Regions from separate parts of the Homo sapiens genome. Here all the other regions are linked to region 1. Evidence: fine-mapped expression QTL. A gene starts in region 1. Each other region holds a variant in brackets. All regions are shown on one strand. Distances are between the middles of the regions.

Evidence for each region. PIP is the estimated chance that this variant, and not a neighbour inherited with it, causes the effect. A credible set is the group of variants that fine-mapping cannot tell apart.
Region 2: its variant is the best candidate, but not a certain one, in a credible set for the expression of TRIQK in coronary artery (GTEx, PIP 0.54).
Region 3: its variant is the best candidate, but not a certain one, in a credible set for the expression of TRIQK in whole blood (INTERVAL, PIP 0.50).
Region 4: its variant is the best candidate, but not a certain one, in a credible set for the expression of TRIQK in whole blood (INTERVAL, PIP 0.89).

What each region holds. Positions count from the first base shown.
Region 1 is chr8:92,962,296-92,970,409 of GRCh38, forward strand. It overlaps TRIQK (triple QxxK/R motif containing), which reads right to left and starts at 3,849. Exons shown (of 5, transcript NM_001171797.2): 1 at 3,712-3,849. RefSeq lists an enhancer at 3,056-3,165 and a silencer at 3,836-3,945.
Region 2 is chr8:92,600,680-92,608,793 of GRCh38, forward strand. All of the region lies in intron 3 of LOC102724710 (a long non-coding RNA gene), which reads right to left. Among named protein-coding and RNA genes, the nearest start is that of FLJ46284, 180 kb to the right of the region's middle. The variant C/G (reference allele first, on the strand shown) is at 3,876.
Region 3 is chr8:92,931,516-92,939,629 of GRCh38, forward strand. The region is part of intron 2 of TRIQK (triple QxxK/R motif containing); the gene reads right to left. Among named protein-coding and RNA genes, the nearest start is that of TRIQK, 31 kb to the right of the region's middle. The variant C/T (reference allele first, on the strand shown) is at 4,346.
Region 4 is chr8:92,913,551-92,921,664 of GRCh38, forward strand. It overlaps TRIQK (triple QxxK/R motif containing), which reads right to left. Exons shown (of 5, transcript NM_001171797.2): 3 at 3,379-3,460. The coding sequence starts at 3,439. Among named protein-coding and RNA genes, the nearest start is that of TRIQK, 49 kb to the right of the region's middle. The variant T/A (reference allele first, on the strand shown) is at 4,292.

The sequences.
Region 1 (8,114 bases):
CTTTGAGTCAAATCTACTGATATCAAAAACACAGATACATATGCACAAAGATTAAGGAGAAAGCTGGCTGAGTTTCGCGTTTCTACATAGAAGAATGTCCACTGGAGCAGGGACTCTCAAAAGATGCTTTGGCATTGGAGTGAGACAAAGAAATTCTTTATTGAGCTGATAGATCTCTACATTACACAATATTTATCATCTCTGAACTTCAGGATCCCAAAAGCCAGTAGTACTTCCTTTAAAGAAATTAGAATAATTTTAAAACACCCTGGCATATTTCAAATACCCCAGAGGTGTCACCCAGAATGGAAAACCATTCTGGAAATGGAAAACCAGAGCACTAGATTAACAGTCCTGGCCTCAGATCCCACTTCTTCTTCACAGCTTACCAAAAAGAGACGTATCTGACCGGTTCACATTACTCCACCGGTAGAGCTAACCCATTATAAACCACTAAGCACTGGAGATTTTCCATCTTTTATTAGACCTCTGCCCTACACCATGAAAAGCAGTAATTGTAAGTAAGCGTATCTGTTCCGCAATCTGAAATTTTTCTCTCAGCTGAACTAAAGTCTAGGTTCTGGGAAAGAGAGTAGGAGTAAAAGGGGATAGGAAGTACTAGTACTCATTTTTGGTCTCATTTTTGCATAAAGCACTATCCCCACTCGACTTGTTATTGCAAGTTGAAGTTGATATGGCAGGCGCCACATGTCTGTTTACAAACGCAAGAGAGGAAGGAAAGAGCTATTATTGAGCCCCTAAAAATCTCTAAATCCATTGTAATGCTCTCTCTAAGCCATTTGTCTTTATCCCTGTTTCTCTACCAGAAATGAACAGAGTTGAATAAAGAAAGAGTCAAGTACCAAACAGTTCAAATAAAATTACAAGTACTAACGAAATAACAGGTGCATATATACATTTATGCGTTTTACAAAAGCAATAGCTCTTTACCTCTTCAAGTTTTTCCTTATCCAATAACAACTTTTTATATCTACTACTGATATCCACTTTTATTGATAAAGCTAGATAGGGAATCAGACCAAAGAAAATAATGAACTCTATTTACAGATTTCTATATGAATATAGAAATCAGGAAAAGAGCCACAGTGAAAACAACCACAATTCTTTTTAGCCACAAATTAAAATGTTATAAAAGATTATTCACTTAAGTTTAAAAAAAAAAAAACAGTTCTAAGTATCAAGTAATGATATTCCAGTGGCATGTACTAAAAATAATCAGCTTTTCTTTGTCCAAAACGGACCTCGATAGATGAGAAAGTTTATGGATTTAATGTTCATCTCAAAAGTACAATTTTGGCCAGACGCGGTGGCTCACCCCTGTAATCTCAACACTTTGGGAGGCCGAGGCGGGCGGATCACCTGAGGTTGGGAGTTCGAGACCAGCCTGACCAACATGAAGAAACCCCGTCTGTACTAAAAATACAAAATTAGCCAGGTGTGGTGGTGCACTCCTGTAATCCCAGCTACTCGGGAGGCTGAGGCAGGAGAATTGCTTGAACCAGGAAGGCAGAGGTTGTGGTGAGCTGAGATAGCGCCATTGCACTCCAGCCTGGGCAACAAGAGTGAAACTCCGTCTCAAAAAAAAAAAAAAAATACAGTTTCACATTTTTCTCAAAATATTTGACAATGTTCTTTTTACTTGTTTAAATACCAGAATATGCTTTAAGAGGTTATGATCAAAGGGCATTTGGGATAAAACATAGATTACATGGTTTTGTAAGATAGCAACAAATAACTGAACATTAGTAGTTCCCGTTTGTTAGTGCTCAAAAAAACAAAAAAGTACAATGGGAAAGGGGGCCCCAAAAGGGAACTGCAGATGACTGAAGGCCTTGAACAAAGGTATGTTATGGTAAGAGGCACTGTGGAAGAAAGGCAAAAGCCCCACTCTGCTCCCAGCTATGTAGCCTTGGGTAAAAGTTACTTAGTCTCTCTGTAGGATGAGGCAAGTGGGAGAGAATAATTTCCTTATCCCTAAAGAAGTTGAACAAAAACAGGGTCCATTTAGGCTTAAAATTGTGCATTTTTCTGAGGAGCAAGTCAATAGCTTTCCTTGGTTTCTCAAAGTGGTAAATGACACCAAAAAGGTTAGTCATCCTCGCATTAAAAGGTAATGTTTCCCAATCTTTTCAGGTATATATATATATCTATATATATATATATATCTAGTGATATTAAAGAGGAAAAGGTGTCATTCAAGACATTACAGGTTCTACCTAACCAGAACCAACACAGAATCAATAATGAATAGATGAGTTAATTTCTTCCCCATTTCTAAATAACCCTAAGATTAAAAAAAAAAAAAATCACAAGGGAAATTTGAAAATACTTAAAGCTGAATGGCAATACTTATACGTGTTTATAAATTTGGATCATATACACAAAAAGATTAAAAGTGTAATCAATAATGCTTTACATTTGTGTGGATCATTACTTTAATGATACTTTCACAACCAATTATTCCTCCTTTTTTAGGAAGGAAGGGCATATCCTAGAGTCTCCAATTTACAGATAACGAAACAATTATTGCCCAAGGACAAACATTTCTTAACCATGCCAGTTTCCTGACTTGTAGGCCAATGCTCCTCCCAATGTTAACAAGCAGCACAAGCTTCCTTCCTGGGGGTTTGCACTGTAAACCTGCCAGAGGAAAATAAAAGATTTTTACCTCTTTTGTTTTTTCTCTCTGGAATGTTTGTTGTGCTGAATCATTAGGAGACAGAGTATATGAGCAAACAAAGGCAGATTTAAAATGGTTATCTGAGGTTACCATCTCACACCATACTTGTTGATCATTAAGTATGAGCCGAGTGAAGCAAAAACAGCTCTACAGGTTTAGCACACCTCTCCACAGTAGAGAATGAAAGGGAGATTATACATTGGGGCTCCTCTAGCAATAAATTGCTTCAACTTCTTCAGGAGGCTTATTAAGCTCAAACAAGCAGCAGAGAACTCCAAGTAGAAGAAACCTAATCTCCAATCCCCTTTTCCTAGTCATCCACGCGGACACCAACATCTGATGGATTCAGGAATACACCAAGCTCCAAGAAAAATACCCCCGCCCCACAACCTCACCACCACCGATAAAGCCACCTAATCCTGTCTGAATCTCTTCTCTGCAAATGTTTTGGTATGCAAATACTCGTTCATTAATAAGAGGAAGCAGGAAAAAGAGTGAAGAGGAGTACCATGGGAAAGGGGGCCCCAAAAGGGAACGGCAGAACCCAGAGAGCTGCACTGACAAGTAAGCGACCGCGAGTAATCGGTCAGCACAAAGGAGCCAATCCCGAGCCGCGTGGAAGACCTTGGGAGGTGGGCGGGACTAACGTGTCCAGGGCCCAGCGGCTGGCGCCAGACACGCTGGCAGGGCGGGAACCGCGCGTTCCTTAGCAACCGCAATGGCCACGCCCACCGAACCCAGCACCCTCCATCCCCCATCCCGCAGCCAGCGCCCTACTCAACGGGAACGGGTCCTTCAGTGATCACCGTACCTACTGGGTTTCCCGGACTCCGGGTTTCTCTTGCAGAGCCTCCCTCCGCCCAGCCCCACCAAGTGCCGCTCCCAGGGACGGAACGATCGTCTCCCAAACGCTTTAGGGCTCGCTAAAGAGGTGCGCCCGCTTTCATTCCCGGACCCCGAGCTTCCCGGGCAGGGTCTCCCCAATCCCCTCGCACTCGCCGGACACACACCTCAGCTCTGCCAAGGCAAGGGCCGACAAACTTCGTGTCCTGTGGGAAATGTTGCTGTCCACGGTTCTGTCACTCAGGGGCAGGGGCGGGACAAGCCAGCCGCACACCCCTACTCCCAAAGGGTGAGGCGGAAAAGAGGCGAGGCTCTGCCCCCAGGGGCGGGACCAGGCCTCAGCCTGCTCTCGGATTGGTCGGCCTTTCTCCCGTCTGTACGCCGGTCCAGGACGCAAAGGCGCTGGCCCTGAGGCCTTTCCCTCATTTTGATGCCACTCCGGAGTTCTAATACCTGTCTCACGAGGTGACTGTAGAAATTAAAAATAAAGACTGTGACTTGTTTAGTTAATATAAAACGGAAAAATATGTTATTTTGATTATTGAACCCTCCCATCTCACACACACACACTCCCCAATTCACAGGATCATCCCTAAGGAGCGTCCCTAAGTGGAAGGGCGCACTGTCTGTGTAAACAATCAATTAATTGCCCATTCAAACAGCAAAAAAGAAAAAAAAATCGTTTTATATTAACATTAACCAGAGATTAATAAATTTAGGAAAGATTGCAAAAACGTGACTGACAATTAGGATTTAGGAGCCTATGTTCGGGTACTCAATTTTCACATCTACAAAATGGGAATGAAATATTAAGATGTTACTTATTGGAAAAGTATTCAAATATTAAATGCTTTATAAATTATACTCATGTAATCCTTACAAAACCCACTAAGAGTATTATCCACAGCCTATGGACAATGAAACACAGGCTAGGAAAGGCTAGATTTATTCAACCATTCAACAAATCTAAGTGCCTGCAGCCATCATTTTTTAATATTGTGGTGAACTAAATCTAAAATTCCTTCAAAAAATTATGCAACCTCCAATTTAATTTTTCTCTTGCTCACATAAAAGTCACCTTCCTCTAGGCCAGCCCCATCATATCTTTTTCCAAAAGCCCTTGAGAAAGAAAGTAGCATACAAAAAAAAAAAAAAAAAAAAAACTGAGACAAGTATAAATAGACTAACCAGAAGGCTTTCTGAAATCTCACAGAATATTATGGCCAGGAATTGAATCCAAAATGTAATTTTATTTTCCGTCCTCCTAAATCATTTTCTGGTCTCCAGTTCCTCTCCCAGAAATAAAGGTAGAGTTAAATGAGATTATATTAATACACTTAACCAGATTACTTATGTGTGTGGCTTTAAAATAGTGAAACTCTTTTTCCTTCCATATTAAACCAAAACCCAGAAGGGTTTATCTTGTCTGATAGATACGGTTGTAGTAAGAAAAAAGAAAAAAAAAAAGAGTACCTCTGGACAAGTGCCTTGAGATTCAATTAAAATGTTCATCGTACTGTGATGCAATTGTTGGAATAAAAGAAACCCATTCCAATTACAAATAATTTTACACTCTTGACCTGCTGAATATCCAAATTCTTCTGAAAGCTTGCTAAATGTGAATAACTCTCTATAAAACTTTCTTGATTTGTATGACTCAGAGTCCCCATTTTCTTTAATCTTTTAAAAATATTTGGTTTGGCCAGGTGTGGTGGTTCATGCCTGTAATCCCAGCACTTTGGGAAGCTGAGGTGGACGGATTGCCTGAGGTCAGGAGTTCCAGACCAGCCTGGCCAACATGGTGAAACCCCGTCTCTACTAAAAATACAAAAATTAGGCAGGCATGGTGGCAGGCACCTGTAATCCCAGCTACTCAGGAGCCTGAGGCAGGAGAATTGCTTGAGCCCGGGAGGCAGAGGTTGCAGTGAGCCGAGATTGCATCATTGCACTCCAGCCTGGGCAACTGAGTGGGACTCCATCTCAAAAAAAAAAAAAAAAAAAAATTAGTTTTAGACTAAAAAGAAAGAGTTATGATTATATATTAATAAATATATAAATAAATGCTGTAAGATTTAAATAAAAGTGGTGAATGTACTTGAGTCCATTTTCATTACATAAAGATGTACAGCAATGCATTTGTACAGCAAATGCATTGAATATTCTCACATATGTAAGATATTATACAACAAGAAGTAAATAGCTTAATGTAAAATTAAAACTTCCAGATGTATGTTATATGCTTATTTCTTTACCATATAAAGACATATATTATTGACTTACATTTCTAGCAAATTGAAATATAATTGGCTGCATAGTATTCTATGGTGTATATGTGCCACATTTTCTTTATCCAGTCTATTATTGATGGGCATTTGGGTTGGTTCCAAGTCTTTGCTATTGTGAATAGTGCTGCAATAAACATACGTTGGCATGTGTCTTTATAGTAGCATGATTTATAATCCTTTGGGCATATACCCAGTAATGGAATTCCTGGGTCAAATGGCGTTTCTGGTTCTAGATCCTTGAGGAATCACCACACTGTCTTCTACAATGGTTGAACTAATTGACACTCCCACCAACAGTGTAAAAGCATTCCTATTTCTCCACATCCTCTCCAGCATCTGTTGTTTCCTGCCTTTTTAATGATCACCATTCTAACTAGCATGAGATGGTATCTCATTGTGGTTTTGATTTGCATTTCTGTAATGACCAGTGATAATGAGCTTTTTTTATATGCTTATTGGACGCATAAATGTATTCTTTTGAAAAGTGTCTGTTCATATCCTTCACCCACTTTTTGATGCGGTTGTTTGTTTTTTTCTTGTAAATTTGTTTAAGTTCCTTGTAGATTCTGGATATTAGCCCTTTGTCAGATGGATAGATTGCAAAAGGTTTCTCCCATTCTGTAGGTTGCCTGTTTACTCTAATGATAATTTCTTCAGCTATACAGAAGCTCTTCAGTTTAATTAGATCCCATTTGTCAATTTTGGCTTTTGTTGCAACTGCTTTTGGAATTTTAGTTATAAGTCTCTGCCCATGCTTATGTCCCGAATGATATTGCCTAGGTTTTCTTCTAGGGATTTTATGGTTTTAGGTCTTACGTTTAAGTCTTTCATTCATCTTGAGTTAATATTTATATAAGGTATAAGGAAGGGGTCCAGTTTCAGTTTCCTGCATATAGCTAGCCAGTTTTCCCAACACCATTTATTAAATAGGGAATCCTTTCCCCATTGCTTGTTTTTGTCAGGTTTGTCAAAGATCAGATGGTTGTAGGTGTGTGGTGTTATTTGTGAGGCCTCAGTTCTGTTCCACTGGTCTATATATCTGTTTTGGTACCAGTACCATGCTGTTTTGGTTACTGTAGTATAGATTGAAGTCAGGTAACATGATGCCCCTCTTTGTTCTTTTTGCTTAGGATTTTCTTGGCTATATGGGCTCTTTTTTGGTTACATATTTAGAATTATGTTTCTGTGTTTCCAAGTATTTGAGAGTTGTCTAATATCTTACAGTTATTGACTTTTAATTCCATTGTAGTTAGAAAATATATATTGTAATATTTCAAATTTTATTGAAAATTATTGACACATATATTATAACCCAACATATGGTTTATCTTTATGACTGTTCTCAGTGTATTTGGAAAAAAAATGTGTATTCTGAAATTATGGAATGCAGTATGCTCTAAATGTTGATTATAGTCTATATCTTATGACAGTTTTTTTTTTTTGCTTTTAAAAACATTTTATTTATTTATTTTATTTTTTCATTTTACTTTAAGTTCTAGGATACATGTGCAGAATGTGCAGATTTGTTACTTAGGTATACATATGCCATAGTGATCCTTACCAACATTTTTAAGCATATTCTATCACTTATTGAAAGAAAGGTGTTAAATCTCCAACTATGCTTGTGCATTTGTTTATATTTTCTTTTTTTAAAAAAAATTAATTTTTTTTAAATTTTAGGTTCCAGGATACATTTGCAGAATATGTGGGTTTGTTACACAGGTAAACTTGTGCCATGCTGGTTTGCTGCACCTATCAACCCATCCCTTAGATATTAAGCCCAGCATGCATTAGTTATTTATCCTGATGCTCTCCCTCTCCAAATCCTCCCCTAGCAGGTCCCTGTGTATGTTGTTCCCCTCCCTGTGTCCATGTGTTCTCATTGTTCAGCTCCCACTTATAAGTGAGAATATTCAGTGTTTGGTTTTCTGTTCTTACATTAGTTTGCCGAGGGTAATGGCTTCTGGCTCCATTCACGTTCCTGCAAAGGACATGATCTCATTCCTTTTTATGGCTGCATAGTATTCCATGGTGTATATGTACCACATTTTCTTTATCCAGTCTATCATTGATGGGCATTTGGGTTGATTCTATGTCTTTGCTATGGTGCATAGTGCTGCAATGAACATGCGCATGCATGTATCTTTATAATAGAATGATTTGTATTCCTTTGGGTATATACCAAGCAATGGGATTGCTGAGTGGAATGGTGGTTCTGCAGTTCTGCTTCTAGGTCTTTAAGGAATTGCCACACTGTCTTCCACAATGGTTGAACTAATTTACAT
Region 2 (8,114 bases), 360 kb before region 1:
CCTCAAACTCTCCAGAAGGAACCAAACTGTTGGTACCTTGATTTTGGACTTCTGACCTCCAGAACTGTGAAAGAACATATTTCTGTTGTTTTAAGTCACCCAGTTAAAAGGTGGCAATTTGTTATAGCATCCCTGGAAACTAATAAAAACTGAAATTAAAACCTAGGACTGCCTGGCTTTTAGGAGTTTATACTGTTACCAGAATTCTACATTGAACAAAAGCTACTTGAAAACTAGATTTTAGATGACTATAGAGGAGAGAATTGAGTAGTCACTGAAATTATCATAGAAGCTTTATGACAGAAACAACCATTCTGATGCAAGCTGATCCCAGCAAGAAGTATGAAAAAGCCTTTAGTGCAGAACAAGAACAAAAAATACAATACAAAAAGAACAATACAAAAAAAATAATGACCAAGGGTTTTCCGCAAGTTTGTTAGTCAAGAGAAATTGGAATTTAGCATCAGAAAACACTTCAGCGACATTATTACTTGTGATGCACGTATGTTGTTCTTGAGTGAACAAGTATAATCAGAAATAAATATGCTTAACTATTTAATTAATATTATACTATGAGTTTAGGTTATAGGCTAACATGTTCATTGTCTTTTCAAAGTTCTGAATATAAACACTTACCTTTAGGAAATTTAACAGGTATTAGGTTAATCCTATACCAAATACTTCATACGTTATCTCAGTCTTTGTGAGACAGCAAGCACGCTTCCCATTTTCAAAAATGAGAAAGCTGTGCAGGACCATCAACTGCTTATGTAGCACCTTTGTATAAATTACAAATGCATGTGCCAGGACAGATGGCTTAGCAAGAGCAGCAAGGGGTTTAGTTCAGCTCCACTTGGTCCCCTGGCTGTGTCTACAAACTCCTGTGCAGAGCAGGAGCCTCACAGCTGAAGCCCAGAGAAGCTAGGTAACAGTGCTCAGATCCAACCCTCAGTAAATGTGTATGCTGTGGCTTCAGTCCATTTATCTCTGACTTTAAATTCCATATTTTCATGAGCACATAGTGACATCTTCAAGTAGCTTCAGATTTTACTACCGAAAGGTATTCAAACCGATAAATGCAAGTGACAACTGCAGTTGATATGCTGTGCCAGTCAAGAGAGTAAACCTTCTGAAAAATGATGCCAGAAGAGAGGCTCACCTTCCCCCAGGTGGTCAGAATCAGTGATATAATTTGCAGGGCCCTGTACAAAATAAAAATGTGGGGCCATTGTTTAAAAATCATTAAAAATTTCAACAGGGCAACAGCAGAGCCTTAAAGTAAGCCTGGAGTCCTTCTAAGTGTGGGGCCCTGGGGGACTGCTAAGGTGGCTGCCCAGGAATCCGGCCCTGCAGGTGGGCCATATGAAGCCTAGCATCTGGCTTGCAGAATAGCAATAAAAGAGATGCTGGTAGAAAAGATCTCCTACTAGGATCAGCGCTTTTACCTCTGTAGCTTCTTGTGCTTACTGAGGCTCTAGCAGTACTAATAAGTTAGGTCAAGTTATACTTTCTTAAGTAGGAAGGATCTTTAATGTCTTACTCTCAGTTCTTATACAAGTAGACCACCTCACTTTGCTGGGTGGATCTCCACTTTACCTTAAGGTCAGGGAACAGAAATTCAAGCGCTTCAGTGACAGTATTTTACTGCAATCGTATCTTAGTGAAATACATAAGAAGAAACCCAACAGATTTATGTTTAAGTATTAGATCCAAACTGGCATCAGTGACAACAATGCCTCGGATTTGAAGAATAGTGGAATAGGAAGGGGGGATATTAAATTCTACTGCTCCAGAAGAGGCCAGAACCTTGATTTAAATATACCATTTGAAGTCTCAGAAACACCGCATTTTGGTTTCTGTAAGATGTTAGCTACATTTGAATTGTTGTTTAGATCAGTGTTTCCTAAAGCGTGTACAACTGAAATAACTGAAAGACGTGAAAAGGTAATTGCATGAAAATAGCTTTTTGGCCAGATACAGAAGTTGTGTGCGCAGAAGAGTGTTTTACTAAAGGATGTTTCTGAGTCTTTCACGTACTCCTGTGCTGGCGCAGAGTATGGCACATGACTTTAGCATGGAGCATCTTGAGGGACCATGTTCCGTGAAACACACTTTATGAAGTGCTGTTTTATGTGACACTATATTGTAGGCAGCATGCCAAAGAGGGCATTTTCAAGCTTCATAAGTCCAGGCACACTTGTTTAAGAGCTTTCTTACCTAGGACCTTATGATTTGGCCATTCTTAGCTCATTACTTCCCCTCCCCAAGTCCCAGGCAGAGGTTAGTACACCTGTTCTCACAGTGTCCTGGCATTTGGTGCTCACTGTTCACCTGAGGAGCAGATTATGACTGTGAAGATCGAAAACATTCTCAGCTAATCTTCGCTGTGGGGTTAATACTGTTGTGGGGATCTTTTTACAGTTTATGCTGACGTGCCCTGCTCAAAGATCCATCTAACACTCGAAATGAGGCTCCCTGAGTCTACACCCCAGAACCCGCCATTGCTGTCAGAGCTGGCAATGTGCCTGGCTGCTCTTGTGTGGCCCAAGGCAAGTCACTGCATTCACTAAGACAAGTGGCTGCTGTGTTCTTCCTAATTTTAAATATGCCCACAGAGAAGAGAGGGACTCACAGTTTGAAAGATAACTATTTAGTTTGCATCAAGAGCAACTGAGTTTTCCGTTCCACTACACTTGAAAAACCCACCGGGCTGTTAAAATCAGCAGTCAACAAGCAAGCACCAAACCATCCTACACACTTAGAGCTCTGAGACTGGGTGAGATTCTCTGGGAAGGCTGTGTGTCCACCTTGGACATCTACGTCCCCAGGAGGCCAGCAATAAGACAGATAAACATCAAGTGTGGTCTCTGAATGGACTAATCACTTTTGACAATGTGTGCATTTTTATACAGAGGGATGATGAAATCACAAGTGTGTGTTTACTAGTATCTGCGCTATGCAAAGAAACAACCAGAAAGTTCAACACGTAAGGTCCAAACTAAGTTTTCCTTCTTCACCTCAATCAAAAATTACTTTACAGATTGTTTGAATAATATCTCCAACTCCTTAATCTTTTCAAAGGAAAGCAGCAAAAATTCAACCAAAGAATAAAATCTTCCTAAATAAAGAATAGAATCTTCAGGAAGAATAAAATCTTATTTAAAGAACCTGATTTTTGCTAGCATTGGTTTGACTATGAAGAGCCACACTTCCAATGATTTCTGAACAGCAGATATCAGCTGTTTTACATTTTAACTAACTTGCCACTCTGGCCACTGTTGAAAATTCTGTAGGAATTAAATGCCCGGTTTTGCAAGATACACATTTCTTACTGAAACAGCCTATTATTCATTGTACACATATATTACGCCTCTATTTGCTGCCAAGTTTTATGGGATTAAATAGAGAACACAACAGGTAAGAGCCCCAAACTCATGCTACTGATTCGCATCTCTGAAGTTGTTTGCTGCAGGGTCTGACTGTGAAGGAGCTGTAATCACAGTGGCCACCAGCCTCTGATATTCTTCCTCTGCTGTTCTTAATGTTCTCCCCACATCCTCAAAGCATCATGGCTTACATCCCTGTTCACTGGCTTAAGTCTTCCCCAATCCTTCAGCAAATTATGATCAAGGTGGGTGTATATAAATGGTTCTTAGTATTCTTCCTGCTATGGCTGGAGTTATTTTAGGAGCTTGTGGTGCTTTTAAGATCAAGGACTTTGACCCTGGTCCTGTCTGGCTTCTTGCTCCCACTCAGGCACAGGATATAGTCTTTTTAAAAAATAAGTAACCTGCTTGGTGCAGTGGCTCATGCCTATAATTCCAGCACTTTGGGAGGCCATTGTGAGAGGATTGCTTGAGGCTAGGAGTTTGGGA[C/G]CAGTCTGGGCAACATGGTGAGATCCCATACAAAAATAAAAATAAAAAATTAGCCTGGCATGGTGGCATGCGCCTGTTGTCCCAGCTACTTGGGAGGCTGAAGTGAGAGGGTGGCTTGAACTGGGGAGGTCTGGACTGCAGTGAGCCGTGATTGCACCACAAACTCCAGCCTGGGCAACACAGTGAAACCCTCTCTTCACAAAATAATATAAAATAAAATAAATAAAATAAAATAAGTAACCCCTAGGTTCCTGGACTACCCCCATAAGTCATTCTTCTTCCTCTCATGTTAATTCACCCTGTTTTATCTGTTCACCTTCCTCTTTAGTTCAGATCTGTTAGGTTACCCAGCTTAGTAACTCCTTCCCCTAGAAGGTAGGTTAAACGTGGCCCTACTGTGTTTGCTCCCCACTTGGCAGGCATAAGGTTGTACACTGACAGCTGGGGCTGGAGTGGCAGCCAGCCTGTTACAACTATGTTCCTGAATCCTTTACAGAGATGAGCATGAAACACATGGAAATGGAAATGAGGCAATCTAGTTTGGAAAAAATAGATTTGAATTGAGGGTAGAAAAATGAGAAAATTGGAGTTCCAGTCCCTGTTTGATACCACAGAGCTGTAGAACCCCAGGAGACAGTTCTGTGACTAATTTTCTTCAACTGTAAAAATAACAGTGTAGGAGAAATAATTCTTAAGTCTCAAAATCCCTGGCTTTAAATAGGGTTAATGGTCAGGATTAGTAAAACGGTATGGGGCATGACCTTCTTTTATGTGACATAAGAAACTTGGTAATCATAGCAAAAAAAAAAAAAAAAATACACAAAATTTTTAAACAACCCAACCCTTTTGAGATGGAGTTAATAGGTGAAGTTGCAACTTCTAGTGACCTCAAGCACATTTTTCCTTCTCTACCTTCGAGTAGATAGAGGTCTAAAGTGAGTTAATCCCTGACTGCACATAGCTGTTCAACGCAGATGCTCTGGAGTCGGGCCTACTTGGTTTAAAGAACTGGCACATAGGCCTGTGCCTGGCACATAGTAGACTTTCAATAAACATGTGTTTAAATAATGTTGAATCAGTAAGCACTGCCTCTGCTCTCTTCCAGTTGTAAATCGCTTAGCCTCTAGGTGACTTGATTTCTTTACTGATAACAGTGCCCGCCCTATAAACTGGTAAGAATGCGATGAGATAATTCAGGCAGAGCACTGCACACAGCCAATGCCTGCTGAAGGTTAGTTGTTACTGTGGCAAAGGGATTTGTCTCAAGGATTCTCTAGGCTCTTTTCATCCGACCATTTTCAGCCCATCAAACAACTTTCCCAGACAGCAGTAAATGCAGGCCAAGGTCTTTGCTTAAAGTGAAAATCTCTGGCCTTGATGAGAGAAGCTGTCAAGTCCTGAAAAGCCTGCCACTTCCTCACTTCACTTCAGGTTCCGTGCCCCTTTGTCTCTTTTTTCACTGCATAATATTCAGATCAAAGCATTCTTGCCCTGCTTATCCTCTAAAGCACATCATATCAGTAGGTTAATAGTTGAAGGTCGCCAGCCTCCATCTCTCTGCACCTTGTTGCGGCCAGGCTTCGTAGCAGCCAAGGCCCCAGCTGGCGCGGGGGAGCTGCAGCAAGCACACTGTTTGTGTGCCCAGCAGATGTAAAAAGCTTGGTGCAGTGATCTGGGTGCACCTGTTGGTTTGTCACCATCTGTTAGCCAAAATGTTAAAAAGCCACACCCTCGGACAGCCAGCTGAGGAGAACTTAATCTCTTCCCTCCCAGGCCTCCAAATACAGGCTGCCGATCACATCTTACAAAAGAAGAGAGCCAAACACAAAGAAGAAACTGTCTGAACCCTGCCTAGAGGGAAACCTAATCTTCTGCCCTGGCTGGGTTTTGTTTTTTACGCTAACAAAAAAAGGGATTCTAAAACAAATCTAGCTAGATATTACCTGACAAGAAATCCTGTTATAAACAACTGCCAATTTTTTTTAAAGGAAGATATTAGTTGAACATGGATACTAGTATTAAATGAATTAAGCAGTAATGGTATTTTGGATGACTACTTAGTGAGGTGGAAAATGATGAGGGAGCTAACGTGTGCCTCCTCTGAGGGAGATAGAATTGGATTCTTAGAAGTAAAATGCCTCCAGGGCCAGCACAGGATAAAGAATTAGATGAGTTTAGGCCTTGGAGTTCCAAAGATCAGAGCAACATTCCTCTAAGGAAGACACAGAAATTTGTATGACCTTTATCAAAGCATGGACAGCCTTCACCCACTCGTGCCTCTCTCTCCCTGCTGCCCACATCTTCACCACACAGAACAAAGTCTCCCATTCCACAAGGGTCAAGGATCACACAAGCTAATTGCATTTAGCTGGTGGGTATAATTTCAGAGCTAGGTACCTCTCCCTTCAGCCAGACATAAGATACAAATTTTTAAAAGCAATTCAAGAGGGCAGGGATCTTTTATTCAATGACCAGACCAAATCTCATTGAAATTAAATATTCAACTAGAATATGCATGCAGCAACTTTCTTGAATATATACCCAGGATAAGTCAGAGCAAATGTTAGCGTTCATTCTTGTCTTTATTGAGAATAAATAGGGAAAAAGAAACTGGTTTCCATCCAAAGTTGTAAAATAAGGAAGATGTACTTTGTAATTTAAGACTTTAAAAAGAGTTTTAAGTTAGAAATGATTTCATGTAGCTAACGAGTTTGGTTTTTTAAATTTATTTTTTAGACAATTTTAAAACACATCGGTCAAATCTTTTATGTGGCCCCATACATTTTATACTGATTTTCCACCCCCCCTTTTTTTTATTTAACCAAACTATCATTCAACCTAATCCTTAAGGAATATTGAATAGAATTAACACCTTTATACCAATCCCATTAGTGTACTGTTAAATTAATGGGTTCATTTCTGCCCTCAAGCAAGATTTGGATTATAATCTTGAGACAAGCTACCTTGAGGCAGTAGGCAATCACTTTAAAAACCTGAAAGCAGGCAACATATGGCACACTACACAATATAAAAGTGTTTGAGAGGTACAAGTTTCCACCCTTCATGATACATGCCCAGTTTTAAATAAAACATAGCGTCATCTGGTTCACGCTTAAACACTGAAATTGAAATTATTGGCCATACTGTCATTTTCAAAACAATAGCTAACGGTTTGCACATGTGCTGTTTACAGATCCAAGCCTGTAAACACAGTCACCAACCACAACTTTGCAAAGGTAAATGACAGCTTGAAAAATTTCAAGTCTCCAGAACTCCTGGGATTTTCTCGTTTTCCCCCTTTCATTCATTCTTTCTTCCTACCCCACCCCCAATCCACTCATAGACACAACAGATCCTCCTCTGCCTGCGCAGGCGTAACTTCCTCGCCATATCACCCCTCCCCCCACGACACATTTTCCTGCTGTTGAGACCAGCTGGGCTGTATTAGTCATGCTGAAGCACGTCATGTAACACAGCAAAATATCAGGCAGCCCAGTGTCATGGGAAAAGTGAATCTACTTCATTATCTACCTAGGCAAAGGAAACAGAACTATCACTTCAATGGGCCTGGTCTTCCCTTCTGTGTTGTTAATGTATATTCTATTAATATCATTGATGATATTCCAAGGTCTTGGTGTAAATGAACATGGTGCAGAAGGGAAGCATCAATGGTAATACTGTGGGGTAATACCTATGCTCTGGGGCCTTTTTTTATCCTTTTCTTCACATACAAATTCCATAAATGTTAAAGGATTTTGATTTACATAAAGAGAAAAGAGGGATACTGTTATCAAAATAGAAACAGGCTGTCCCAAAGAGAGTCATTCTGTGACCCAGAACATAATAGTATGATAAGATGTTGCTTTGGAAATTTGCAGGGAAAAACAATGTGTTATACAGCTCTGCTTCCCAAACTTCAAAGTACTTTCAAATCACATGGACAGCCTATTGAAAATGTTTTCTTCTGATTCAGAGGCCTGAGAGCCTATATTTTTCACAAGCTCCCGGTTAATACTGATACTGCTGGTCCCCAGATCCCACTTTGATTTGCAAGGTTGTATAGAAAGGACAACATTTAGGACAATTCAAAGATTACATTTTTTTAGAACTACCAAGTACTGACATCAATCGAAAACTAATCTAAAGGAGTCGGGAAACATCACTGAGACCTAAATGATGATGAAGGGAAATGGCCATCACATTATCTCTGGGGAATGTATTGCTGGGCATAGCAAGAAA
Region 3 (8,114 bases), 31 kb before region 1:
AGTTTGGGAAATAGAGGCCTAGATTATTGGAAAGCTAATTAAAATGGATCATAACAGAACAAAATAAGCATTTTGGTTAACGAATAAAAGATATCAAGAACTGGCTAAGAGACATGCTTATCAATCATTTCCCCAGCTTGTGATAAAGGAATATCCTGTCATCAGAGACCTATAATAGGATGACCATATAACTTACCATCCAAGCCAGAACACTTTTGAGAGTCAAAGAGGGCCCCATTCATTACAGCAAGATAAACTTAAACCAGGACCATCCAGGACAGCCCTTGCCCCAACTATGAAGCACACAAGGACAGTTTACCATACACCATAGCTCAGTTAGTTTTATCACCCATAAGGTGTTGCGGTACCAGGAAAGAATGGCAAGTCTTCTTTTAAAATACTGCATTTCAGAAAACAGATTAATATTTTAGGCAATACCTGAAACAGATATGAGAATATCACAATAGTAGGTTATGCTGAGATAGACTGTCCTTATTTACAAAATCATCCTCTGGCACATGGCACTACTGAATACTCTGTCGTCAAACTTCAAGCCGTCAGCTTCCAAGTCAGCACTTTCCTGATTCTCCTTCTACATTTCAATTTCTTCTTTACCTCTTTCATTAGCATTCTTCCTCTAGGTGCCTATGAAACTATGGCGTTTGTGTTCCCGTGTTCCCCATAATTCATTCACTTTATATATTACGCCCTCCTTGGGTACCTCATTCCCTCAAATATATTCCAAGGTCCTATATAACTACCCCTAACTTCTTCAATCATACATCTAGCATCATTCTAACAAAGCATAATCAATGTGAATTTCTTATTTTTCCTTTAACTAGCAAGTTTCTCCTGTTTTCTACCTTTTTTGTTTGTTTTAACTAAACTGACCAATACAGTGTTCTCATTGCATGCTATCCTCTTTTGACAGTGTTAACTTGGATCACTTGATTAAGGTGGTACCTGCCTAATTTCTCCACTGAGAGAGAATTTAGTCTTTTCCCCTTTGTAATTAATAAGTATTTGGTGTGGAGGTGCTTTGAAACTATGTAAATATCCTATTCATCAAATTTACCACTACTTGGTTAGCATTTATTGATGTTTCTCGGTTGAATTAATTATATTCTGACAGGTGCCATGTGATGATTTTATAATTTCCTCATTTCTTCCATATTTATTCGTTAGTATCCTACTTTATTAAAAAGCATTTCCTTCTCTCCATTTATTTATTCATATATGCGTTTATAGCAGTATGTACTCATAGATATTTTTATTCAATTAGTTAGAATTAATGTATATCATTTTTAAAATTTTGATTCCCAAATTGTCCTGGATTTGGCCAGTGAAAGTTCCTTCAAGGTGGTTTGTGTCCTTTTGGCATATCACCTTTTTTAAGAACCTCTTTATTTTCTGACACACAGATATTTACGGTTTAGCGTGTGTTTTCCCTGCTCCTGCCCTGGGACCTGCCATTTCTCTAAGGGCCCACTTCCCCTTTAGTAGAGAATGTTTTTTAGAAAGCAAGATCTGGGGACAAGATATGCTCATTTCTAATAAACTGATACTGTTCACAGGCCTTCTAAGGAGAGAGAGCTAGGAAATATATGTATTGGTGTGAGCTCAGTACTTCCAATTTCCAATCCAACATCACACAGCTCTCATTCTACTACGCCCTTTCCACATTTATATTCATAGCTTTCCTCTCTAACATTAGGAAACCTGTCAGACATTATTATCAATGAAAGTTTTCATGTTTAATTTTTTGTATAATATTTTACAAAACAATTAATACCTAATATTTCTAAAATTTGTGAGTCACCTATGAAACAAAGGATAAGAACCGATTTGAATTAAATCTACAGAATAAATAACCTGTGCTCATATAGACCAACTTGGTGATAATGGTAATATCAAATATTAAATACCCCATAGAGGTCTATCACCTTATTTTACACCTTATAGACATATGCTCCACGCTATGGCAAGGAAAATGAGACTGTGCTTAAACCAACCACACCTACTGCTGAAGCTGGCCATGGGGTCTGTTTCTCCTAAACATATGACTGTCTGCAAAATGGGTAGATAAAAGAATAAAACCAGTGTTCTTTGAAGATAAGGCATAAAGATTCTAGATAGAAAACTAAAAGCATCAGTCCTATGTGTAGCCACATACTGTATGTTTACATGGGTATTTATACATTTAAAAATATAGCTTGTCTATATCAGATTGCTAACATTCAAGATATATATTGTGAAATCATGTTTCTGTATATTGATTCATCACTTAATCTAAGGTTTAAACACAATGATTCTCACACTTCTGACTATAAAGTACACAGATAACATATCACTCACTGAATCTCCTTGATCTATTTTAGCGGCAAGCATCACTTATGCTAATTTTTAGTCATTTCTATGTGTATTATCAATTTCAAGTAATTAGGTTTCCAAATTCAACAAAAAAATCCTTAAGTGACTAGGGAAAGTCACTCAGTTCCACACAGAGAGAGCAGGAGAGAAAGTGTGAAAGAAATAAAAACCTCTATTATTTTTGTAATGGTGGCTATTTCAATGGTGAACTGAAAAAGCAAGTTCTAGTTTGGTACATGGATAGTTTCCAAAAGACGTTCAATGATTATCCCTTGACTAAATAAAGAATAGTAGGGAAATGTACCAGACAAGAAGGCATAAAACCTTAGCCACATCTTTTCAATGAAAGACTAGATGACATTGACAAAGTCAATCAGTTTCCCTTCTTACACAATTGCTAAACTCTCTTCCAGTTTAAAAAACATAGAATACATAAGCATATGTATCAGGCTAAGGGTAATTATTTTCATGCCGAGAAACACATCCTTAAATATTAAGACAGAACTAACAATAAGTACATAACTTTTAAGCATATATATCTTAAAACTAATGGAAATTATGTGTACTGAAATAAGCTTAAGTATATAAGAGGAAACAAAGAGCTCAAGACAACAATAACAAGGCCCTTTATGGAAATTTTGCTTCCAATGTAATAGCTTCAAAATGCTGTATGACTTATTTAAAAGAGCTTTATTAGTAATTAAATGTCAAAAGTATAAAAACAACTGGTCTATATCCAATTTCATAGAAGTTGTACTAAACGCATTCATTATATCGAAGTCCCAGGTGATTATAGCATTAGCACTTTGTTAGTATTTGCAGACTGCTAGTTTTCAAACAGATTGTGGTATTATAACATGTATTTATCAGCTATGATGCAAATTATGCTTTTAAAATACCACCGAATTTTTCCACTAGAGAAATACAATAAAGATTTTTGAGCTTAAAAAATTGAGAAAACAACATGGAAAAAGGTTAATGGAAATAAGCACTAGGCTATTAGCTAATATAACTCTACTATGTAGAAACAAATAAATAAGTAAAAATAGATGGAATAGTACAATACGAAAAAGCATAAGTAGATTTCCTGTTACAATGGATTGATGGAGAAAAGAATTTCCCAAGTTAAACTGTAATACAAACAAAAAACCAGAAGTTCTACTTTGTGCCAGCTTTTTATCTTCCATCTCCTATTCCCTAATTCCCACTCTATCAAATCTGTAATGCCTTTCATAAGGTATTTCATTTAAAAAGATGTCAAAGTTCTGCTTGATAGTTAATTGTCGGCCTTTTTAAGAGTATTCAGTCTCACAAAAAATAACAAAGAAAAGCTAGCAAATGAAAATACGAAAAATATACTTTTGAATAAACTGTTCAAGATAATAAAAGATTCCAACTTGATCAATGTTGTGAACTACAAATATTAAAACACTTCAACAGCAAATGTTTAGAAATTATTGCTAAAATAAAATAATCAGGGTTTTGGTTAAAAGCGTGTTCATTCTGTGAAAATTCACCGTCTACATATTCTGTTTTGTGCACGTTCCTTTATGTACAGTATTATGCATCAACAGAAAGTTTTGAAAAATTAGTAATGTAGCTAAAGTGATAAGTAAGCACAAATTAGAAAAGACAAAAGATTGAAAAATAATGAACCAAAAAGGAAATAATAGAAAAAGAATAAAGCCCTTCAAATTACAAAAAGTCATAAACTAAAAGCAATAAATAATTAAATTTAAAAAACAGAGTCAAAAGGGATGATCAACATAGACAAAAACTGAGCCTTTGAAAAATAATAACATGGAACAAACTCTTGTCCTGACGGAATAAGAAAAAAATACACAAACAGTATTAGATATTTAAAAAAAGACTCAATATTCAGCAGAGATTAACATTATATAACAAGAAGATTCTATTAAAAATGCCATATCAATAAATTTAAAAATTAAAACACATTTCTTAAAAAACAGACTTA[C/T]CAATAGCAGCTGAAGAAGGTAGAGATCAAATAGAATAAAATTCAGTGGAACTATAATTTTTTAAGTCAATCAATGTTTAAAAATCTACCCTTAAAAAATAAGACATACACACACAAAACAGGTAAGATTAAATGGTCAACAAGGAAGTTTTATTAACCATTCAAGGAACACATAATCCCTACAACAAGCTTTATCAGGTATATAAAATATTAAACTATTTTGAAGCCTAAAAATTGGCACACTTCTCAACTCATTTCATAAGGCTAATAGAATCTTGAAATGAGAACAAGGCAAGATCATTATGAGAATGAAAAATTACAAGCCAATCTTATTTATGAACAAAGATACAAAAATCCTAAACATAATATTAGACAACCAAATCCAGTATGTATAATCATAATGATAAAATATTCCATGATGAAGCTGGGCTAATCACAAAAATGAAAGGGCAATTTAACATTAGATATTATCTTAGTAGTATTCTTGTTAACTGATTAAAGGAGGAAAATACTGACAGACCTCAATCAATACAGAAAAATAAAAGTTACATTCAATACCCATTCATTATTACAGGGGGAGAGAGAAGGAAGAAAGATAGAGGATGAACAGAGGGAGGCAGGAAGGAGAAAGCAAGGAATTTAGTATATAGAAATAGAAAAGAACTTTTTACCCTGTTGATACATAGGCAAACAAACAAAGCAAAGATTATCCTAAATAGAGAAAAATTAAAAGTTCTCTTTTAAAAATCATAAGCAAGACAAAGACATTGCAGTGAGACATCCAGATAGCACAGTAAGACAAAAGGGGAAAGAGCATAGGGGATTGGAAAGGAAAAAGAAAACATTATGATTCACAAATAATATGACTCCCAGGTGGCAAAGTGGAGAGAAACTACAGACAAATATTTGAATCTGTATGAAATTATTTGTAAGAGCTCAGCCAGGTTATGATATATAAAGTTTATATATAAAATTCTAATTTAGTATAGCAACAAAATCTATAAAGCAGCTATAAATACTATGGAATACCTCTAAAAGTATATGCATGACTACTTATTGAACTGTTATAGGAGCTCAGATTATTACAATAAGTTAAGAAGAGTAATTAATAAAATATTTGAGGGAGCAATGTGGCAATACCCAGTAAAATTAAAGATTATGTACCTACAAGAACCATTAATCAACTGCTAGTTATATGAACTAGGGAAACAATTCTATATGTGCACAAAAACACTAGTAAGTACACTCACTGAAAATGTTTTTAATAACAGCAAAAAAGGAAAATAAAACTCTGTATGTCTACATAATTTATTCATAAGTGAAATATAAAGCAGTTAAAATGTGTGAACAAAGACACATGTATTTATACACTTACAAAACAACTTAAAACATGAAAAATCAATAGTCAATATTATTTAGGGAAAAATATACCTATACCAACACACACACACACATGCACCCAAATGATAAACGCCAAATTCTGTGGTTATATAGCAGGAATGAGGAAGTACAATTAAGATCGCTTGCACAGGGTTATTTATTTAATCAGATTTCTTGACAGTATATTGCTGGGTCTTGCTTGTTTTACCCAGTTGAAAACATGTGTTTTAAATGTACAATTAAGATCATTTTATTTAATGTAATTAAATATGTTTGCATTTATATCCCTCATCCTACAATTTATTTTCTATTTGTCCCATCTGCTGTTACCTCATCTTCTTTGTTTTTTTTTTTTACTTGCTTCTTTGGGATTAATTGAGCATTTTTTAGTATTTTATTCCATCTTCACTTTTATTAGTCATTCCTCTGTTTTACATTTTTAGCAGTTACTAGAATTTATAATACATATTATGTAACCTTTCATAATCTATCTTCAAATAATATTATACTACTCTACATATTATATAAGATCTTGCAAAAGTAAACTTCCAATCTCAACCCTCTATCCTTTGGGATATTATTGTCATATGTTTCACATCTATGTTTTTATCAATATAAACCATTGATAATATTTTTGCAGTAAAGAGTCAACATATCTTTTTCAAAACCTTAAAAATGATAAAAATGCCTTTTGTATTTACCTACATATTTACTATTTCCAATACTCTTTGTTCCTTGTGTGATGTTTCATTTTCCTTTTTTCTGAAGAATTCCATTAACATTACTTGCAGTGCAAGTCTTTGGGCAACAAATTCTCTCAGCTTTTGTTTAGAGACAAAAACTTTTATTTTGTCTTTAATTTTTGAAGAATATTTTTCTTCAAATAGAATTCTAGGGTTCTAGGGTCACAACTATTCTTACAGTACTTGAAAGCTAACACTCCTTTGTCTACCAACTGGGATAGTTTTGTGGAACAGTCTTCAAACTTATCTTTAGGTTTACCTTTTTATATTTTAAAATTTTTAATTGAGATATATATATATATTCGAGGTGTACAACATGATTGGATATATGTATACAATTTGTAATGATTATTACAATCAAATTAACTAACACATCCATCACCAACCATTTTAAATTTGTCTTTAGTTTATATTCCTCACCCATACTTGCTACTTTTAATGATTTTTGCATTATTGTTTTCACCAATTTAATTTTGATGTGCTTTGGTGTCTGTGTGTCTACTATTATACTGGTCAGACTTCTCTGAGCTTCTTAGATGTATCGTTTTGTAATTTTCATCAAATTTGGAAAAACTTCTGACATGATTTCTTGAAATACTTTTTATTTCTTCCCCTGCCCCTGCCACTATTCTGAGACTACATCTACACATATATGAGACCATGTATTGTCTCATAACTAACCGAGGCACTGTTGATTTTTGTTGGGAGGGGCAATTATTCACTCTGCCTTTCATTTTGGATCAATGTTACTGCAATATCTTCAAGCACACTGAACTTGTCTTCTGCAGTGTCCTATCTGCTGTTAATACCATAAAGTGAAAGTTGTGACTCAAAAATTATACTTTTCACCACTAGAAGTTCCTTTGATTCTTTCTAATATCTTCTATATTCCTCTTATGTTAAGGTTTTTCTTTAAATATTTAAAAATATAATAACTGATTACATTTTTTGCTGGTAGTTCCACCAAATCTATCATTTATAGATCTATTTCTATTGACTGTTTTTCTCTTGGTTATAAATCACACTTTCCTGCTCTGTGGCATGACTAGTAATTTTTACCAGATAATGGAACTGCAATTGTTACATTGTTTAATGTCTAAATGTTATTTTACTCTTTTAAAACAATTGGGGCTTTTTGTTGAGAGGAGAAAGAGAGTTAAAATCAGTATGGTCAGGTTTTACTTAAGTTTTTTCTAGGTTGCATCTAAGCAACCTTTAATCTAGGTATAGATCAGCCTACTTCTAAAACATTATCCCCAGTGGGGTCTCAACTAAATGCCCTGGTTGATTATGAAGACGTGCCATTCTGAGTGGTCCAAACCTTAATATCTCCCCACTCTGTGTGAGCTCACAGAATTGTTTTATTTGTGAATTTGAGAGAAGCAAAGGGGATAGAATGGCTTGACCCAGCAGGGTAAACAGCAGCTCCACACAGCCAAAATGCCTACCCAATGACTCCATAAGGCAGGAAGACTCCCAGCTTCATGGATGTCAGAGACATGAAGGGATATCAGAGAAGGAAAGAAGCCACACTGGCTTTGCCCAGGAAGGTAAGCAATGGCTCCACACAACCAAAAAGCTCACCCTACAACCTCCCCAGGCAAAGAGATGTCCTCCTCCACAGATCTCAGAGAAGCAAAGGGGCT
Region 4 (8,114 bases), 49 kb before region 1:
GACATTGTGGTGATTCCTCAAGGATCTAGAACCAAAAATACCATTTGACCAAGCAATTCCATTACTGGGTATATACCCAAAGGATTATAAATCATTCTACTATAAAGACACATCCACACTTATGTTTACTGAAGCACTATTTAAAATAGCAAAGACTTGGAACCAACCCCAATGCCCATCAATGATAGACTGGATAATGAAAATGTGGCACATATACACCATGGAATACTATGCAGCCATAAAAAATAATGAGTTCATGTCCTTTGCAGGGACATGGATGAAGCTGGAAACCATCTTTCTCAGCAAACTAACACAGGAACAGAAAACCAAACACCGCATGTTCTCATGCATAAGTGGGGGTTGAACATTGAGAACATACGAGCACAGGGAAGGGAACATCACACAACAGGGCCTGTCAGGGGGTGGGGTGTAAGGGAAAGGATAGCATTAGGAGAAATACCTAATATAGATGACGGGTTGATGGGTGCAGCAAACCACCATGGGACATGTATACCTACGTAACAAACCTGCACGTTCTGCACATGTATCCTAGAACTTAAGGTATAACAAAAAATAAAATTCAGCACCATTTCATGATAAAAATTCTCAATAAATTAGGTATAGAATGAATATCTCCCTTCTTTTTTTCTAGTACTTTTATGTCTTATATTTGCCTTTTAGGTATAGAATGAATGTCCCCCTTCTTTTTTTCTAGTAGTTTTATGTCTTATATTTGCCTTTAATTCATTTTTATTTCTTGACATTGGTCTTGGCTATGATTTCTTGGATGTAACACTAAAGAACATGCAACTGAAGCAAAAACAAACAAAGGAGACTAAATTAAACTAAAAATCTTCTGCATGGCATAAGGAGCAATGAACAAAATAAAAAGGTAATCTACAAAATGGGAGAAAATATTTGTACACCATGTACTTGAGAAACAGTTAAGTCAAATTATATAAGGAACTTATATTTTACAATAGTAAAAAAGACAACTTGATTGAACATACCTGACTAGAAAATGGTCAAAAGGTCTGAATAGACATTTCTCCAAAGAAAATGGAGAAAATGACAAACAGGTACATGGAAAAGTCCTCAACCTCCCTAATTATCAGAGAAGTGCTAATCCAACCACAATAAGATAATGTCTCACACGTGTTAGGATGACTATGTTAAAAAAACGTAATAAATGTTAGTGAGGATACAGAAAAGACAGAATCCTTGTATATTCTTAGTAGAAATGGAAAAAAATAGTATGGAGATTCCTCTAAAAATCAGAAATATAACTACTATATGACCCAGCAATCTCTCTCCTAGGTATATACCCAAAGAAAATAAAATCTCCACATTTTAGAGATACCATGTTCACTGCAGCATTATTCACAATAGCCAAGATATGGAAACAACCTAAGTGTCCACAGACAGATGACGGAATCAAGAAATTATTTTATACATATATAAAAATATATTTCACCCTTTAAAAAGGAGGTCCTGCCATTTGGGAAAACATGGATGAAATTGGAGGACATTATGCTAAGTGAAGTAGGCCAGACAAAGAAAGAAAAATACTGCATGATCTCTCTTATCTTTTCAATCTTAAAAAACGGATGTCAAATATGTAGAAAAGGAGAGTGGAATGGTGTTAGCAGAGTTGGAGGGAAGGGGAAATGCAGAGATGTAGGTCAAGGGTATAAAGTTGCAATTATGTAGGATGAATAAACTATAGATCTAATATACCACATGAGAACTACAGTTAATAATATTGTATTGTACACTGGATATTTGCTGAGAGTAGATTTTAGGACTCTTACCACACACAGAAAAGGTACTATGTGAGATGATGCATATTTTAATTGGTTTGACTGTAGTAATCATTTACTCTGTGTGTGTATAGCAAAAAGTGATGTTGTACACCTTAAATACGTACTATAAACATTCTTTTTTTTTTTTTGAGATGGAGTCCCACTCTGTCACCCAGGCTGTAGTGCAGTAACATGATCTCTGCTCACTGCAAGCTCTGCCTCCCGGGTTCCCGGGTTCACGCCATTCTCCTGGCTCAGCCTCCCAGGTAGCTGGGACTACAGGCGCCCATCACGACGCCCGGCTAATTTTTTTTTTTTTTGTATTTTTAGTAGAGACAGGGTTTCACCATGTTAGCCAGGATGGTCTCGATCTCCTGACCTTGTGATCCACCTGCCTCGGCCTCCCAAAGTGCTGGGATTACTGGCGTTAAGTCACCGCGCCCGGCCTGTACTATACAAATTCTTAATTGGCTATATGTATTCCAAATATTTTTTACTTTGTTTGCATGTCTTTTGTTTTTCAGAAATATATTTTGCTTTATAGAGCGTACTTTTTGTGTCTTATTTATGAAATAGATATATACTATATTTTGGTATCAATTATTTATATTTATTTTCTGACTTCTAATGTAACTTCTTTGTTTATCCTTTAGTTATTTAGAAGTGTTATTTTTATTAATTTATTTTGTATTTCCAAAGCAATGGTACAGATGGAAAAAAGTGCACTAAAGGAGAGGGTTGGGTGAAGAAGGGGAAGTTACCTTTTTGCTTCTAACTAATTTCTAATTTACTACATTTGATTTAAAAATGCAGTTATAGGATATTGATTGTTTATAACTTGGGATACTTTCTTTGTGACTTAGTATGTAGGTAGGTAATTTTTTAGAAATACTCCATGTATCCTTGAAAAGAAAATCCTGCACCTAGAGCCTAATTTAAAATAGATAAGCTTCCTGTTATCTTCCTGTGCTAAGTGAGCTTTTCTAGTCCACCGTTCTACTAGGGTAGTATCTCCTTGAGGGTCCAAGTATATTTGGGAGTCTCAATTCCATCTACAAATCCTTATTTCCAGTCTTCCTTAATCCTTCTTTCACATATGACCTCTGGAGAATTCTCTTTCTTTTTTTCTGAACTCAGGTTTCCATATAAAAGAACATTTGTTCTACTTTATTTAGCATATTTTACAGGAGAATTTTGAAGTTATCAAATTATTGCCAATAAGAGTCAACAGAATTAAAAGTTATAATATGTATACAAAGGAATGATTTAATGGATTATAAAATCAAAAATGCTGATTATATAAAAGCATTCAGCCTAAAGAATAATATTTATTTTTTGTTTTATTAAATTAATTAAAATTATAAGAGCACTGAAAAATCGTAAGTACATGAAGTTCATATCTTTACTGGTAAGCAGGACTGCATTTAATTTTGCTTCCATAAAACTCTATAAAGTCCTTTTTCACTCACATATTTCTGTGTATCATATGTATTAGAGAAAATTTATTTTCTTAATATGCATAATTGTGTTTTTATCTCAATTAATAGGAGTGTATCAAAGATAATTCATTGCTTACCAATTTGTTTTCTGTACTGATCAACAGGAAGTTTTATAGTAGCAGCATCTTTTCTACCCATCTTTGATCTCCAAAATGCCTGCTGAAAAGAAAACAATTATAATGAAAATTTTTTTAAAAAGGAGTGTCTATAAAATCCAGAAATAGTTTATTCTATAAAATTCATTTTTAAAGCAATGGGTACAAATACTTTGACTTATTTCCATTAAATATTCATAAAGAAAACAAAATTCTTTTAAATAAATTATCAATGATACAATTGCTGGTAATTAAATTTCTCAATCATTTGTTTTTGATAACATTCATCTTATCAAGTACTATCAGTGTTCCATTAAACCATATTGTTAAATAACATTATCTGTAAATATGAAAATCATGTAGTATTTACTTAGATAGGTTGGGGCTTTTGGCATACTTTTGGCAACATGCTTATTTCCAAGTATATATAGTTTGGATATATACTTACTATGTTACATTAAAAGTAAGGCTAAAGTTTGAATCTCAAGTATTTTGTATTTTATTTTAAAAAGCATAACATATACATACAAAGCAGATGAATTTCAGTTCTAGTTCTGCCCCTCTTAATGTAAACAATAAAAACTACTACCATTTATTAATATTTTCATGCTTATTACCTTATATGCACTGTTCGATTTAATCTACCTATTTTTATTGATATACAATAGTTGTACCTACTTTGGGTGGATATATGTAATATTTTGATACCTGTATACAATGAGTAATGACCAGTTCAGAATAATTGGGATATCCATCACCTTATTTACATGTTCTTTGTGTTGGGAGCAAAACAAAACTTCTCTTCTAAGTATTTAGAAATACATAATAAATTATTGTTAATCATAATTTTCCTACTGTACTATTGAATACTAGAAATTATTCCTTCTACTCTAAC[T/A]GTATTTTTGTATCCCTTAACCAACTTCTCTACCCTCTACCCACTTCCCATCCCTGGCTCTGGTAGCCATTATTCTACTCTCTACCTCCATGAGATCCACTTTTTCAGCTCTCACAAATGAGTGAGAAAAAGCAATATTTGTCTTTCTGTGCCTGGCTTATTTCTCTTAACATAATGACCTTCAGTTCCATCCATGTTGCTGCAAATGGCAGCGTTTCATTTATAAGGCTGAATAATATTCCACTGTGTATAGAGACAACATTTTTGCTATCCATTCATCTACTGATGGATGCTAAGGTTGATTCCATATCTTCGTTATTGTGAATAATGCTGCAATAAACATGAGAGTTCAGATATGTCTTCCATATACTGATTTCCTTTTTTTGGATATATACCCAGGAGTAGGATATCTGGATCATATGGTAGTTCTATTTTTAGTTTATTGAGGAACCTCCATATTGTTTTCCATAATGGTGTACCAATTTACATTTTCACCCACAGTGTATGACCATTTCCTTTTTTCTCCACATCCCCACCAACACTTGTTATTTTTTGCCTTTCTGATAGCAGCCACTGTAACTAGGATGAGATGATATCTCACTGTGCTTTCAATTTGGATTTCCCTAATGATTAGTGATGTTGAGAATGTTTTTCAAATACCTGTTGGCCATTTGTATCTTCTTTTGAAAAATGTCTATTCAGATCTTTTGCCCATTTTTAATTGAATTGTGTTTTGCTATTGAGTTGTTTGAGCTCCTTATATATTCTGGGTATTAATCCTTTGTTGGATGAATATTTTGCAAATACTTTCTCATATTTTGTAAGTTGTCTCTTCACTTTGTTGATTGTTTTCTTTGCTGTGAAGAAGCTCTCTAGCTTGATGTAATCCTATGTGTCTATTTTTGATTTTGTTGCCTGGGCTTTTGAGATCTTACCCCCCCCCACAATTTTTGCCAGACCAATGTCCTGTAGTGTTTTCCCAATGTTTTTTTCCAGTCATTTCATAGTTTTATGTCTTACATTTAAGTCTTTAATCCATTTTGAGTTGATTTTTGTATATGATGAAAGATAGAGAATCTACTTTCATTCTTCTGCATATAGAAACCAGTTTTCCCAGGACCATTTATTAAAGAGACAATCGTTTCCCACATTGTAACTTCATAGTACTTTTATAAAAAATGAGTAGACTCTAAGTGTGTGGATTTAGTTCCGGGTTCTCTGTTCTATTCTATTGATCTATGTGTCTATTTTTATGCCAGTACCCAATTGTTTCGTTACTATAAATTTGTAGTATAATTTGAAATCAGATAGTGTGATTCTCTGGCTTTTTTCTTTTTGCTCAGAACTGCTTCAGCTATTGGGGATCTTCTGGGGTTCCATGTGAATTTTAGGATTGTTCTTTAGGATTTTTGTGGAGAATGTCATTGGTATTTTGATAGAGATTGCATTAAATCAGTAGATCACTTTGGGTAGTAGAGAAATTTTAACAAGATTAATTTTATCATGAAGGAATGTTAAATTTTGTTGAATACTTTTTCAGCATCTACTGAAATAATCGTATGGTGTTTATTCTTGATTCTGCTGTTGTGATACATCATGTTTATTGATATGTGTATGTTGAACCATCCCTGCATCACTGGCGTGATCCAACTTGATCATGATGCATTATCTTTTGAACGTGTTGCTGAATTTGGTTTGTAGTGTTTTGTTGAGATTTTTACATCTATGTTCATCAGCGATATTACCTTGTAGTATTCCTTTTTTTTATTGTGTTCTTGTCTAGTTTTGGTATCAGAGTAATGCCAGCCTTGTAAAATGAGTTTGGCAGTATTCCCTCCTCTTCAATGTTTTGAAATAGTTTTAGTAGAAATGGGATTAGTTCTTTAACTGTTTGGTAGAAGTCAGCAATGAATCTATCAGGTCCTGGACTTTTCTTTGATGGAAGATTTTTTATTCCTGCTTCAAACTCATGATTCATTTTTGGTCTGTTCAACTATTCTGTCTTGTCATGTTTAATCTTGATAGGTTTTATATGCCCAGGAATGTATTCTTTTCTTCTAGATTTTGCAATTTGTTGGTATATAGTTGTTCTTAGTAGTCGCTAATGATCTTTTGCATTTCTGTGGTATCAGTTGTAATGTTTCTTTTTTGTTTCCCATTTTATTTGAGTTTTCTCCTTTTTTTCCTTGGGCAAGCAAAGGTTTGTTAATTCTACTTATCTTTTCAAAAAACAACTTTTTGTTTTGTTGATTTTTTTTGTATTTTTTTGTCACAATTAAAATTTATTTCTGCTCTATAAGTTTTATGATTTTTATTGAATTTAAATATTGCAGCAGAGAGTACAACCTGATTACCACATTCATATTCTCCTTTTCTTCCTAGCACAGACTCTATTTCCTAGCCTCAATTACAATATGTCATTATTCATAGAATACAATGTTACAGTCGTAAGTATTCTTCAAACTGGTGTCTGCAAGTTGTTCCTCATTCCTTCTAGTAAGGCATTACAAGATGAAGATGAAGTCAGACAAGAACTAGTCATGTCACAAGCAAAAATATAGAGAATAGAAAGTCCAGTAATTTGGGGCTAAAAATGTTGGAAAAGCCAACTTCTTCTGAGAACCAACAGGAGAAAAATGAAAACAGGCTTTGAAGAACAAAGACCCATGAAAACTTATCAGCTTAAAAAAAAAGAAAAAAAAAAGAGAGAGAGAGACAAAGAGCAGATTAGGGGTTTTCACTGTCTCACCTGAGCCTATTATTTCAGATTACTTCAAAGCAGACACTATTGGGTAGAAAAAGAGAAGTCAAGGAGTTCTAAAGCACAGAAAGAAAGTGGACATGAGAATTAGGTCTAGGAAAGAAATTGCACTGTGTTTATTGGCACATGCAACTGAGTAGAAATGGTAAGAAGGTTACTAAAATGTGAGGGAACTATATTTACTAAGAAACCAGAAACATAATCTAAAAAAGTCTTTGAATGAAAGCCAACTTTTGGGCCTCTACATTTAAACCAATATACAGCAGTACCCAAGGAAGGCAAACTCTATAGAGTTTATAACATCCACTTCACACATGACTAGAAAGGAATAACCATCCAGAGGGGAGAGCCATGAAGAATGGACAAAAAGACCATAAACTGAAACTTCTATTTCAGTATAGTGGATCTTCTCAGTGGTCTCGTGAGCAGAGGTTTTATCATCACAATGGACCAATGACTCCTGTGGCTGTTTTCCATTCTTCCCTTTATAAATGGGAATGATTATTGCAGGTATAAAGCAGTTATCCACTGCTTAATCATTATTTCTTAGGGGTTTTGTGATGCTGGGGAGGAGTAGAAAAATGTCACAGGCAAATTGAGAGAGGACTGTGTGTTAGCTTGAGATCCTTGGCTTGGAGCTAGAAGCAATAAATGCTAGATGTTTAGGTTCTCTCTATTGGGGAGACAGAAAAAAATAATGTGCATAGTTATTTCCGTGCCAGAAAGATAAATTATTAAAAAAACTGTTGGCTACTCACTAAAATACATGTTCTCCTTTTTTTTTCCTCTGGGTACTCTTGACTAATTTCCCAGCCTCCTTTGATGTTAGTTGTGGACACATCACTTATTTTCAACCAACAGAATGTGAGTAAATTAATGTTTCCTACTTCTAGAACTGACCTATAAAAACGTTCCTTGCATACTCATTTATCTGGATGAAATGGAGATGACCTCTAGGGTAACTCTGAACATGAGTGATGAAGATGATGACAGCCTGGATCATGAATGACTGCATGGAGGACAGCTATCCAACCAACTTGTTTTTCTGTTTCATATTGCTGT